Linked DNA regions of Homo sapiens: all the other regions are linked to region 4. The links come from fine-mapping of genetic effects on gene expression. A gene starts in region 4. Each other region holds a variant in brackets. All regions are shown on one strand. Distances are from middle to middle. Region 1 overlaps C1RL-AS1 (C1RL antisense RNA 1). Region 2 overlaps RBP5 (retinol binding protein 5). Region 3 overlaps RBP5 (retinol binding protein 5). Region 4 holds the start of C1R (complement C1r).

Evidence for each region.
Region 1: its variant is fine-mapped to the expression of C1R in whole blood (TOPMed, PIP 0.98).
Region 2: its variant is fine-mapped to the expression of C1R in whole blood (TOPMed, PIP above 0.99).
Region 3: its variant is fine-mapped to the expression of C1R in whole blood (INTERVAL, PIP above 0.99).

The regions. Positions count from the first base shown.
Region 1 is chr12:7,112,740-7,115,445 of GRCh38, forward strand. C1RL-AS1 (C1RL antisense RNA 1) reads left to right here. Exons shown (of 12, transcript NR_026947.1): 7 at 2,391-2,480; 8 at 2,647-2,706. Among named protein-coding and RNA genes, the nearest start is that of C1RL, 4.9 kb to the left of the region's middle. RefSeq lists an enhancer at 528-1,029. The variant C/T (reference allele first, on the strand shown) is at 1,117.
Region 2 is chr12:7,121,178-7,123,883 of GRCh38, forward strand. It overlaps RBP5 (retinol binding protein 5), which reads right to left. Exons shown (of 4, transcript NM_031491.4): 4 at 2,509-2,706. C1RL-AS1 (C1RL antisense RNA 1) reads left to right here. Exons shown (of 12, transcript NR_026947.1): 12 at 535-674. Among named protein-coding and RNA genes, the nearest start is that of RBP5, 6.4 kb to the right of the region's middle. The variant A/T (reference allele first, on the strand shown) is at 1,364.
Region 3 is chr12:7,124,775-7,127,480 of GRCh38, forward strand. All of the region lies in intron 2 of RBP5 (retinol binding protein 5), which reads right to left. Among named protein-coding and RNA genes, the nearest start is that of RBP5, 2.8 kb to the right of the region's middle. The variant C/CAA (reference allele first, on the strand shown) is at 1,295.
Region 4 is chr12:7,091,161-7,093,765 of GRCh38, forward strand. C1R (complement C1r) reads right to left here and starts at 1,285. Exons shown (of 11, transcript NM_001733.7): 1 at 1,227-1,285; 2 at 292-520. The coding sequence starts at 1,228. RefSeq lists an enhancer at 1,333-1,627.

The DNA of each region.
Region 1 (2,706 bases), 22 kb after region 4:
AGTATAGCTGAAAGGCCGATGTAGAAATGAAAATGGATGTCTGAATTTGGGGGGACTTTTTTCTAATAGGGTAACCTATTAGAAATCATCCTGGTCTGTCTAGAAATGAGGTTTTCCTAGGACATGAGGTTTTCAACACTAAAACCAGTTAAGTTCCCCGACACGCCAGGACAGTTGGTCACCTTATTGCTAACACTTCAATCATTTACTTCAGTTCCCTTTCCCTTACCCAAGTGTCCCTAAAGAGCATAGGCCACCTCTGCTCTATGTTAAGGCCCCCAAGTGCAGGTAAGGGAGCTGGGATTCCTGGCATGCTAAGTAAAGGTAGCAAGCTACCAAATTGTAAGGATACTATGTTTACAAATATAGAAAGCACCCGTGAGAAAAATCTAAAATAACTGCTTCCTATTAGAGTATGGGGTTGTGGATGATTTAAACCATGTTTCTCTGTTTAGTAAAACTTCTTTAATATTATTTAATAACTTTGATAGTTACAAAATAAATGTATCTGAAATTATAATTGTGACCAGATGGTCCTTTCTGAGCCAGACAGGATTAGAGAATGAGGGGATGGATCCTTTAATCGGCATCTTTAATCCACATGATTAATGAAGAAGTTTTTGTCCTTGCATATAAACTTAGGCCAGGCATGGGTCTTTCCAATCTTAGCTGGGCAAACAAGGTTGGGGTGCTCCAGTGACTTTATTTTTGGTTTTATTTTTGAAAATCGTGTTGGTGCTGCCCCCTTCTGTCCTGAAAGGGGAAGGGCAGGACAACAGAAAGTGCCTTGGGGCTTCCTGGCCAGGGAGTTTCTCTGCAGCCTTCATGAGCCCCCAGCATTTAGAGAGGAGCTTGCCCTCTCCTGGAATCCAAACAGCCACAGGAGAGCCCAGGCAGAGGAGTCTGGGGCAGCACGAGCCATTTCTGTCCACAGCTTCCCTGTCTTATCTCTAGATACCTTGCCCTGGGCTGGGACACGTGGGGGCTTTTGTGCCCAGTGCCAGGTGAGGAGGGAGATACAGGAGCGAGGTGAAGAGCAGCAGGGGTGATGAGGCGGCTGAGTCAGCCAGACTGGGACCCTTTGCTTCTGTCTGGCATGGCCAGTGGAGATGTGGA[C/T]AGCCCAGGGCAGAGGGGTGACCCTAATGGGTCACACTCCTCCACCCCCAAGTTATCTCAGGCTTTCATGTCAGGGCCTTGACTTCCATGCCTTATGGACACCTAGGCAGTCGCTAGCTCAACCCCAATGGAGTGTCAGCCACTAGGTTTAGCCCTTAAGCCCATCCTCCCTACTCTGCCAGTATCTAAAATCTCAATCAATCGTGCCCCTTCCCAGGTTAAAACTTTTCAATGACTGTGCCTCCTGATCCATGAGATGAAGCCCCAGCCACTTGTTTGTCTCGTCAGGTTCTTCCTTCATAATCAGGCTCTGCATGACTTTCTGGCTTCGCTCTCCACCGCTGCCGCCTCGCATGTGTGTTCCAGGCGCGGTCATGATGCTATGGCTTCACAAACATGCCTTGCGTTTGCATGTGTGACTCCCCGACCAATGCCGTGTTCTTCAGTCATCAGCATAACATGCTGCTTAAAGGAGTGGGCTTGTGTGCCACACTCACCAGGTTTAAACCCAGGCTCTACCATTTAAAAGTTTGGTGACCAAGGCCAGCTTACATAATTTCTCTGTGCCTCTTAACATCCTCATCTGAAGAACAAGGATGAGGACAACGGTACCCACACCAGAGGGTTGGTGTGAGGGTTAAATGAGTTAATAACCAGAATTGCTTAGGGCAGTGTCTGTCATTTGGCAAACAATAAATATCATTACTTGCTTAGGAAGCAGAATAGAATAGCAAAATGGTTAGATCAGTGGTACTCAACAAGGAGCAGTTTTGCTCCCCAGGGGATATTTGATGATATCTAGAGATTTCTTTTTTCCATTACTGGCATTTAGTGGATACAGGCCAGTGATGCTGGTAAGCATCCTAGTGCACAAGGCAGCAGGTCCCACAACAAAATGTTACCTGGTCCTGAACGTCAATAGGGGCGAGGTGGAGAAACTGAGGGTTGGGTGGTCAGGCTCCAATCTGTTTGGGTTCAAATCCCATCTCTGTCTTTTATTTCATGTATAACCTTTGGCAAATTACTTAAAATTCTCTGTTCCTTAGTTTTCTTATCTGTAGAATGGGGACAATAACCTGTGCTTGGGTTCCTGAGAAGAGTCAGCGTTCGGCATGTAGTACTCATGCCCTGGATGCCGGCCATTTTTACTCACCTCTCTCCCCGTGTCCTCTCCTCTGGGAAGCCCTCTTTGACTCAGAGAAAATGACTTTCCCTGTGCTCATGGACTCTTGATGCATGATAACCTCCTGCCCGTGTGTCTGTCTTTCCCACAGGGCTGTGGGTTCCTTGAGGGAGGAATTTTGTCCTGCAGGCTGTGGCAGCCCTAGGACTCAGCACATCTAGGTGTCCACCTGCGTCTGTGGGTGAGTTCTTGGGATGGGGCAGAGTGGGGAGTATGCACCAGGTTTTGGAGTTTTCAAGGTGTGCAGGGAGGAAGAGAAGCAGGTGGTAGACAGGTGCATCTGGGAGATGGGGTTGGGTAGAGTTTGAGGGTCTGAACACGGCCCTGCCCCATTTACTATTCTCTAGTGAGAAGCCTGATCATTGCCACGTGACCGCCTCCTCACTGTTGGTACCTGGTTGTAGAGA
Region 2 (2,706 bases), 30 kb after region 4:
TCGTCCGCATGCTGGGGATACCAGGCCTCTTACTTGGGGTACTTAAGGCTAGACCAGATGGGGTTCCTGCATCTTAGGGAGTGACATTAGGGTGGGGGAAAGGTACCAAAATGGCCATGCCTCTGCTGTCTCTTGGGATCTTGAGATCTGTGGTGGCCTCTAGGAGTTCTCTGCTGCCAATAAGTGGTCCAACCATGTTACAGGATTGGACCCGGGATGGCCTTTGTGCTTTAGAGCTGAGGCACTTCCTGCTTCTACCTGAGCTCCTTTTCAACATATAGGCCTGGGCACGTAGGCGTCAGGGTCATGTGGGAGGTGGAGGCCGAGGGGAGAGGTGGGCAGTGGGGAGGGGTACACGGCTAGACCTTGTTGCTCTGCCTCCTCTTGGGACCCCCCAGTGGGATGGAGCCCAAGTCCTTGGGCAGCACATGGTCCTCTGCTTCACAGGACACACACCTGTACCCATCCTCCCCATCCACTTTTGCTCAGTTTATTTTGGGGACAGGGCTCTGAATTGACCTTTGGTCTTTGCAGACTCTCAGGGACCATCTGGAGTTCCAGCTGGAATCTGGGCCTGGTGGAGTGGGAGTGGGGCAGGGGCCTGCATTGGGCTGACTTAGAGAGCACAGTTATTCCATCCATATGGAAATAAACATTTTGGATTCCTGATCACATCCCTGGAGTTTAAGACTCTGGCCAACCAAGTCAACTCCACAACTTTGTGTGTCCCTGGGAGGGTCTGGTGTGGGACCCACCTGTCTGTGGCCCTCGTCCCCTCCCCTGCCCTTTCTCCACTCACATCTTGGTCCCTCTGGTGATTATCTCTTCCCTCTGAGGACAGATGGAACCTGATTTGAATGAGGGGTAATGGTCTTGTGAGGACCAGGACATGGATTGGGTGTGTGTTTATATGTGTGTGTGTGTATGTGTGTGTGTGTGTGGTGGGAATGGAATATCAGAGAAGGTGGTGGAGGAGGGAGGATTGAATTTGGAGAATCCCTGGCTTCTAGTGTCCGCAGGGGAAACAGCAGCTCCAGCTTCCCACAGCGGTCCCCTCCCCTCTGCAGGTCGAGCTCCCACCCTCTTGGAAATGCCTCTGAAGCTGCATAGTCCTCCCCTGATGCTTGTGCTCCCTTAGGGGATCTCCAGGCCTTTGGGTGTGGTCTGGCCCCTGGAGAAGTGTGGTCGAGTGGAGGATGGGGTCCTGCAGTGGCCATGTTCTGGACGCCCACATCACGGGGAGTTTTGAGGGATTGAGCCCACTTTAGCTTGGGTCTTAAAACCACCATGGTAAGAAGTGTCAACCTTTGGGGGAAAAATAAAAATATATAGAAATATTTAGAAAAACCCACCATGGGGGCCT[A/T]CAAGTTCCTGAGTCAAGGCCTCTGCCGAGACTCCACTGACCAGCATGGTCACTGAAGGGCATGGAGGACCGTCCTGTGGGAAGAGGCTTGGACATGCACTGTGAACTCAAGAGCAAGGACACTGTGTTGATCTGGAGATGTGGGCAATGGGCGAGTACACACGGAGCATCCTCCTGTGCCTTGGAATGGGACAAGGTGGATTCCAGCAGCCCTCAGAGCTTCTGCTGGGTGGCTTTGCAAAGAAGGGGCTTTCCACTCTACTGTGGACATCTGCAGAGATTGGGCAGGGAATAAGATTTTCCATTCAACCCTGAGTTCCTTTTTTTTTTCTATTCCAAATTCATTCCAGAGCATGTGGTAGGATCAGTATCACAAGCCCCTAGTTCTTGGCCAGAGCCCTAGTGACTGTCTTGTGTGCATGGGGGGGCCAGCCGTTGCAGGAAGATGGGTCAAGAGTCTTCATCTGATGAGGGCCAGGGACTTTCCAACTCCCTCAACCCTTCCCCCAGGCTCTTTTCCCACCCTCACATTGAGCCCTCTTCACTCTGATAGTTGGGCCCCCTAGGACTTTTATTCTGAAAGAGCCAAGGCCCCTGGAGGTGGAGAGGAGGCCAGAGGCTGGAGCTGGCCTTGACCCTGAGCCAGCTCCACCCTTCTGGGCTGTTTTCCAAGGCAGCAACTCTGGGACCCTTGCTGTCCTCAGCTCTCCTCTTTATCTCTGGTCTCCAGCCTTGCTGGCCTTTGAGCAGAGGGTCCCTATAGCCAGGACTGCTGGGCTTCTCCCTCCTATGCCTTCACACCCCTGTATTACTGTCTTTTATTCCTTGACCTCACATCCTCCGTCTACTTCCTTTTTCAGCTTTTTCTGGCTTTCTTGCTGCTTGCCCTTCCCAAAGCAGACACGGAGGACAGGTCACCATTTAGAAGCTCCCCGCCTCCCCAAGCACTGGACAAAGGTCTTACCCCATTCCATCCCTCATTCCCAACACATAGGATGGAAGTATCAAATGGCCAGATGCCTTCAGATGTCAGAACCGTGGAGTCCGTTGAACCCTGTGTGTGGGGGGCTGTGTCTTGGGCCTGGTTTTGTTGAGCACATGAGACTTTCTCAAGGATAAGGACAAAGAAATGGACAAAAAGACTCTGCCAGTAGCCCCTGTTTAAACTCTTGAACCCCAGTCACAGTTTTCCAGAAGTCCATCAGGATAGAATTTTCACTAATCGCCAAATGCCCAAAGCTTAGTTCTTTCTTAGAAGGAAAAGAAGAGGTCAAATGGACAGGAGAGAGCGGAGATTGGTTGTTCTCAGGGGCTCCTTCCCTTTGCCTGCTTCTTTCATTTGG
Region 3 (2,706 bases), 34 kb after region 4:
CTCAAAATGCTTCCCATCTCACTCTGAATGGGCTCCCCCTTTTACTCCACAGCAGATACTGTCTGCTGCAGCCCCTCCACTGAGCGAGGGAGCTGCTCTGATTCAGCAGGACTCCCTTTCCACCCTACTCTTTGTTTTTTGTGTTTTTTTGAGACAAGTTCTTGCTCTGTCACCCAGGCTGGAGTGCAGTGGCAGGATCTCGGCTCACTGCAACCTCTGCCTCCTGGGTTCAAGTGAATCTCATGCCTCAGCTACCAGAGTAGCTGGGATTACAGGCGTGCACCAACATACCGGGTTAATTTTTGTATTTTTAGTAGAGACAGGGTTTCTCCATGTTGGCCAGGCTGGACTTAAACTCCTGAGCTCAAGTGATCCGCCCGCCACCGCTTCCTAAAGTGCTGTGACTATAGGCATGAACCATCACACCCAGCTTTCCACTCCTAAAGGTCACCGAGGGGGGCCCAAAGTTGTCTACAGTGACCTTTAGGGGAGAGCAGGGGTGGTAGCAGGATAAGTAGAGGTGAAATTGGGGAGGGCATTTATGAAGAATGGAGACTTTTTCCTCTGGATACTTCTGGCTGACCTAGAGGGACTTTTGAGAAAAAAGAGAGATTGGTTGGGAATCCTACCAGGTAATCTCATTTCTCCTCTTTCTCGGTTTCAAGAACAGCTGAAGTATCCTTAGAAATAAAGGGTCAGCCCCTCTGGGCCTGAGCATTCCAATCAACCTTTATTGAGTTCTCCTTTAGGATAGGCCCCAAACAAGGAGCTCAGAGTCTTGAAGAGATAGAGGATCAGTAAATAGGTAACTGTGACACCAGGCAAGAGTGAGGGATGGCAGTGGGGCGGGCAGAGTGAAATCTTTAAGGAAGTTGGGAGTTAATTAGATTGGAGAGAATGGGAAATTTCTAGCAAGGAAAGAAACAGCTAGAAATAGCGGTAAAAGAGAAAGGCAATTAGTTCTGAAGGGCTCTAACCTAGAGTATATGTGGTGGAGGCAATTGAAGAGTTGATTCACAGAGACCCTTGTATGCTGAGTTAAGTGTAACAGATGATGTAATGTAATAGATCATCACTGAAAGGGTGTAAGTCAGAGAGTGACATGATCACATTTATGTTTTAAGTAGACCCTGTGGCTACAGCATGCAGATTAGAGGAGGGTTAAGCGTGAGAACCAGCTGGGTGCAGTGGCTTAGGCCCGTAATCTCAGCATTTGGGAGGCTGAGGCGGGAGAATCACTTGAAGTCAAGAGTTTGAGACCAGCCTGGGCAACACAGTGAGACCCCACCTCTAC[C/CAA]AAAAAAAAAAAAACACAAAAACACAAAAAAGCAATTTCAGGCACCAGGAAATGAAGGCCTGAATTAGGGTGGTGATAGAGAAAGGTTAGGAGGGAACACAGGAGAGCCATTTAGAAGAGTGATGCTCAACAGAAATAAAATGGGTCAGGAGCCATATTAGAAAAGTAAAGAGAAATAGGGGAAATTAATTTAAATAATATATTTTAGTTAACCAAAAATATTCAAAATATTATTATTTCGGCATGCAGCCAATATAAACATTTCCGAAATGCTTCTTTTTATTTGGCATTGTCTGAAAGTCCACTTACAGCATCTAGATTTGGACTAGTTATATTTCAAGTATTCAACGGCCATCTGAAGTTAGCAGCTGCTATACTGGGTAATGCAGAAAAGCTACAAAGATTTCTTGGCCGATTAGATGTGGTGGTGGTGGTGGTGGTGGTGTGTGTGTGTGTGTGTGTGTGTGTGTGTGTGTGTGTGTGTGTGTGTGCTGGGAGCCTAGAGGTAAGGAAACAAGAGATATTGACCATGACTCCCAGGTCTCTGGCCTGGCTGGTTATTGCCATTAGTGGAGAGAGTAGATATAAAAGTGGGGTAGGTTTGGATAGGAAGACAGTGAATTTGAATTTGACCTTGGCATTCAAATGGAAATTGGTTCCAGGACCCCCACCTCACTAAATCTGCTGAATAAAATGGCTTAGTATCTGTAGAGAAACTACATACATCCCCCTGTGTACTTTATTATTATCATTTTGATACAGAGTCTTGCTCTGTCACCCAGACTAGAATGCAATGGCATGATCTTGGCTCACTGCAACCTCTGGCTCCCGGGTTCAAGTAATTCTCCTGCCTCAGCCTCCCAAGTAGCTGGGATTACAGGCATGCGCCACCATGCCCGGCTAATTTTTGTACTTTTGTATTTTTTTTTTTTTTTTTTTTTGAGATAGAATTTCGCTCTTGTTGCCCAGGCTGGAGTGCAGTGGTGCGATCTTGGCTCACTGCAACCTCTGCCTCCCAGGTTCAAGTGATTCTTCTGCCTCAGCCTCCTGAGTAGCTGGGATTACAGGCATGCGCCACCATGCCTGCCTAATTTTTTGTATTTTTAGTAGAGATGGGGTTTCTCCATGTTGGTCAGGCTGGTCTCGAACTCTTGACCTCAGGTGATCCGCCCGCCTTGGCCTCCCAAAGTACTGGGATTACAGGTGTGAGCCACTGCACCTGGCCTAATTTATGTATTTTTAGTAGAGATGAGGTTTCACCATGTTGGCCAGGCTGGTCTTGAACTCCTGGCCTCAAGTGATCTGCCTGCCTCAGCCTCCCAAAGTCTTGGGATTATGGGTGTGAGCCACCACGCCCAGCCTTTTCCCATATGCTTTAAATCATCTCTAGATTACTTATAATACCTAATGCA
Region 4 (2,605 bases):
CCAAAGACTCTCAGCTAGACAGCAGATGGGGAAGGTTTTCCTGACTCAGTGGATGTTGAATTTCCTGAGTGGGTCCTGTCCCCTTCCTTCTCTGTGCTTCTCCCCTCAGTGCTCACCGAGGGCCTCTACACCAGTGAGCGCCCATCCAGGGCATCCCCGGGCTCTCAGAGAGGCCGTTGGCCATCAGCTCTTGTGGGGCTGGGCTGTGTCTGGGGGTGTGCATGCCATACAGATCCCAGATCCCAGAGGGCCCAGTTTTGTCTCCCCTCTGCCCGCCCATCCTGCCCCTACCTTGACATAATCATAGAAGCAGCCTTCAGAAGGCTCCAGGTCAAACTGCTGGAAGACGAGCTTCACCCTGTATCCCGTGGGGACTGTGATCACAGTGGTTGTTTCAAAGTTGTTGGGGTAAGGCTTGGGGAACAGAGGGGAAGTCACCTCCCCAAATAACTTCTGAGGGATGGGAATGGAGCCTCCTGCCCTGCAGAACAGGGCCGGCACCAGGAGGTACAAGAGCCACCTGCCAAAACAAAAGAGAGTATCTGGAGCTGGAGGGGTTCAGCACTCTTGCCATGTGGGCAGTGGCTGTGGCAGGGGATGAGACGGCCATACCACTGGGCATTCTCCTCTCTGCCCACCCTGAACCTCACAGACATGTTCTCAGCAGGGGTGCGTGGGTGGGGAGGATGGCCTGTGCAGCTGCTGCATCGGGTCACTCTCCAGGGCAGTGTCCAGTCCAGAGGCCACCACACTCCCCTCACACTCCCTTTCCAGCCTCCTCCCCTGCCCGGACGCGTCCCTCCCCTCCCCTTCCAGGAATAGGACTGGCTTGGGACCAGTTAATGGAGGGTGAGGGTTTCCACCCGTGGGTCTCTGAAAGGGCTCCCACAGGTTCAGCAAGAGCGTCTGGGAGAAACCATCTGTGGAGTGGGGGACACAGGCACAGAGTGTCCCGTCCTGGGCAAGGGGTCCCCTCCTCTCGCTGCTCCCTGCCAAGAGCCCAGAGGGAAGAAAGGACCATGGCATGAGCATCTATGTATGAAGTCTCCTCTGATCCCTAGGAGGAGGGATGGGGCGTGTGTTGTGTGTGTCCACGCGTGTGCACAGTGGAACTGATGAGGTGTGTGAAGAGAGAAGGGTGTTCCTGTCTCCCTGAATTGCCTCCCATGCCCTGGCTTCTCCCCTGGCTTCTCCCTCCCACCTGGTTGCCCATCACCCTTACTCACATTTCTCAAGGCCCGTGTTGAATCCTGGGCTCTCCCGACAGCGTCTTCGTGCACTGTGTGCAGAGGGAGCCCGCGTCATGCACAGCAGGGAGGGGAGGGTTTTCTGTGGAGTGGAGGGGGGACCATTCCCGGAGGAATGTTGGAGGGAATGAACTATTTGCATAAACAAAAGATCTGAGTTTCCACTTTAATTTAGTTTTGGTTTTGAAATCCCTGTTTGTGGTGCCACCTGCTGGTCGGTGAGGGAAAGGGCTAAGGAGACGGGAGTCTGGCTTTTTAGGGCCCGGGGAGCCTTGGGTTGGAGGCCCAGATGTCTCAGTCTCTAAATCTGATCAGCTTCTCCCTTCTTCCAAGACTTTCCTGGGGGCTGCTGCTGTGTTTACAAGGTTCCTACCAAAGCAGTGGGAGACCACAGGTGGTGGTGAATTCTCTTTTCTGGGCTGTCCTTTCCCATTGACCCTGTTCTTCCTGCCCTCATTCAGCCCACAGCCCTGGTCCAAGAATGGCCCGGGTTTCAATGCCCAGGACGTAATGATAGGAACACTGGGGCAGAGGAGGGTGTGTGGGAGCGGGCAGAGGAGAGAGGAGCTTGGTTGCCTTGGGGCCCTGGCCTGCTTTAGCCATGAATGACACTTGGACATAGAATAGGGTTGGCCATGTCAGGGCAACCCTAAATCAGCCCTGGGTTTGAGACCCTCTGGGGCGGCTGCGGAGGGGGTAAAATGTCCCCATCTCCTTAGCATCTGCTCAACACAACTGCCAGGGCTGAAGCTAAGGATGCGGGTGTGGAGCAAGAGGGACTCGGTTTTTCTGAGATGAAGCCAGGCCCCTGGGAGGGAGGAGGGACCCTAGTCTCTCCTGTCCATCAGGCCATAGTGTCCTGCTTTAAAACTTTTGCTCTTGGCCACGTGTGGTGGCTCATGCCTGTGATGCCAGCACTTTTCGAGGCCAGGGTGGGAAGATCTCTTGAGCCCAGGAGTTCGAAACCAGCCTGGGCAACATAGTGAGATCTCGTCTCTAAAAGTTAAAATAAATTAAAAAACAATTTCATTGTTTTTGGAAGGCTTTCTTCATCAACTCTCCATGGCACCAAATATCTGATGGCACTTCATCCCACGGAGGGGCTTGGGCTGCAGAGCAGGACTCTGCGTTCTTAAGCCTTTGTAGGCTGTTCTGCTTGTTTCCCTTATTAGATGAATCCCTCCAACCTCCACCCTTCTGCCCCCACCCCCGTTCATCCATTTATGGGCTACCTGTTTAATGTGCAAGACACTTTCCCAGGCAATAGATTGCAAGAATTCACAGAGCTGATGCAGTTCCCCATCAGGCAGTGACCACATCATCAGTAGTTAGACAGCAGGCACACAGAAGGTGCAAGA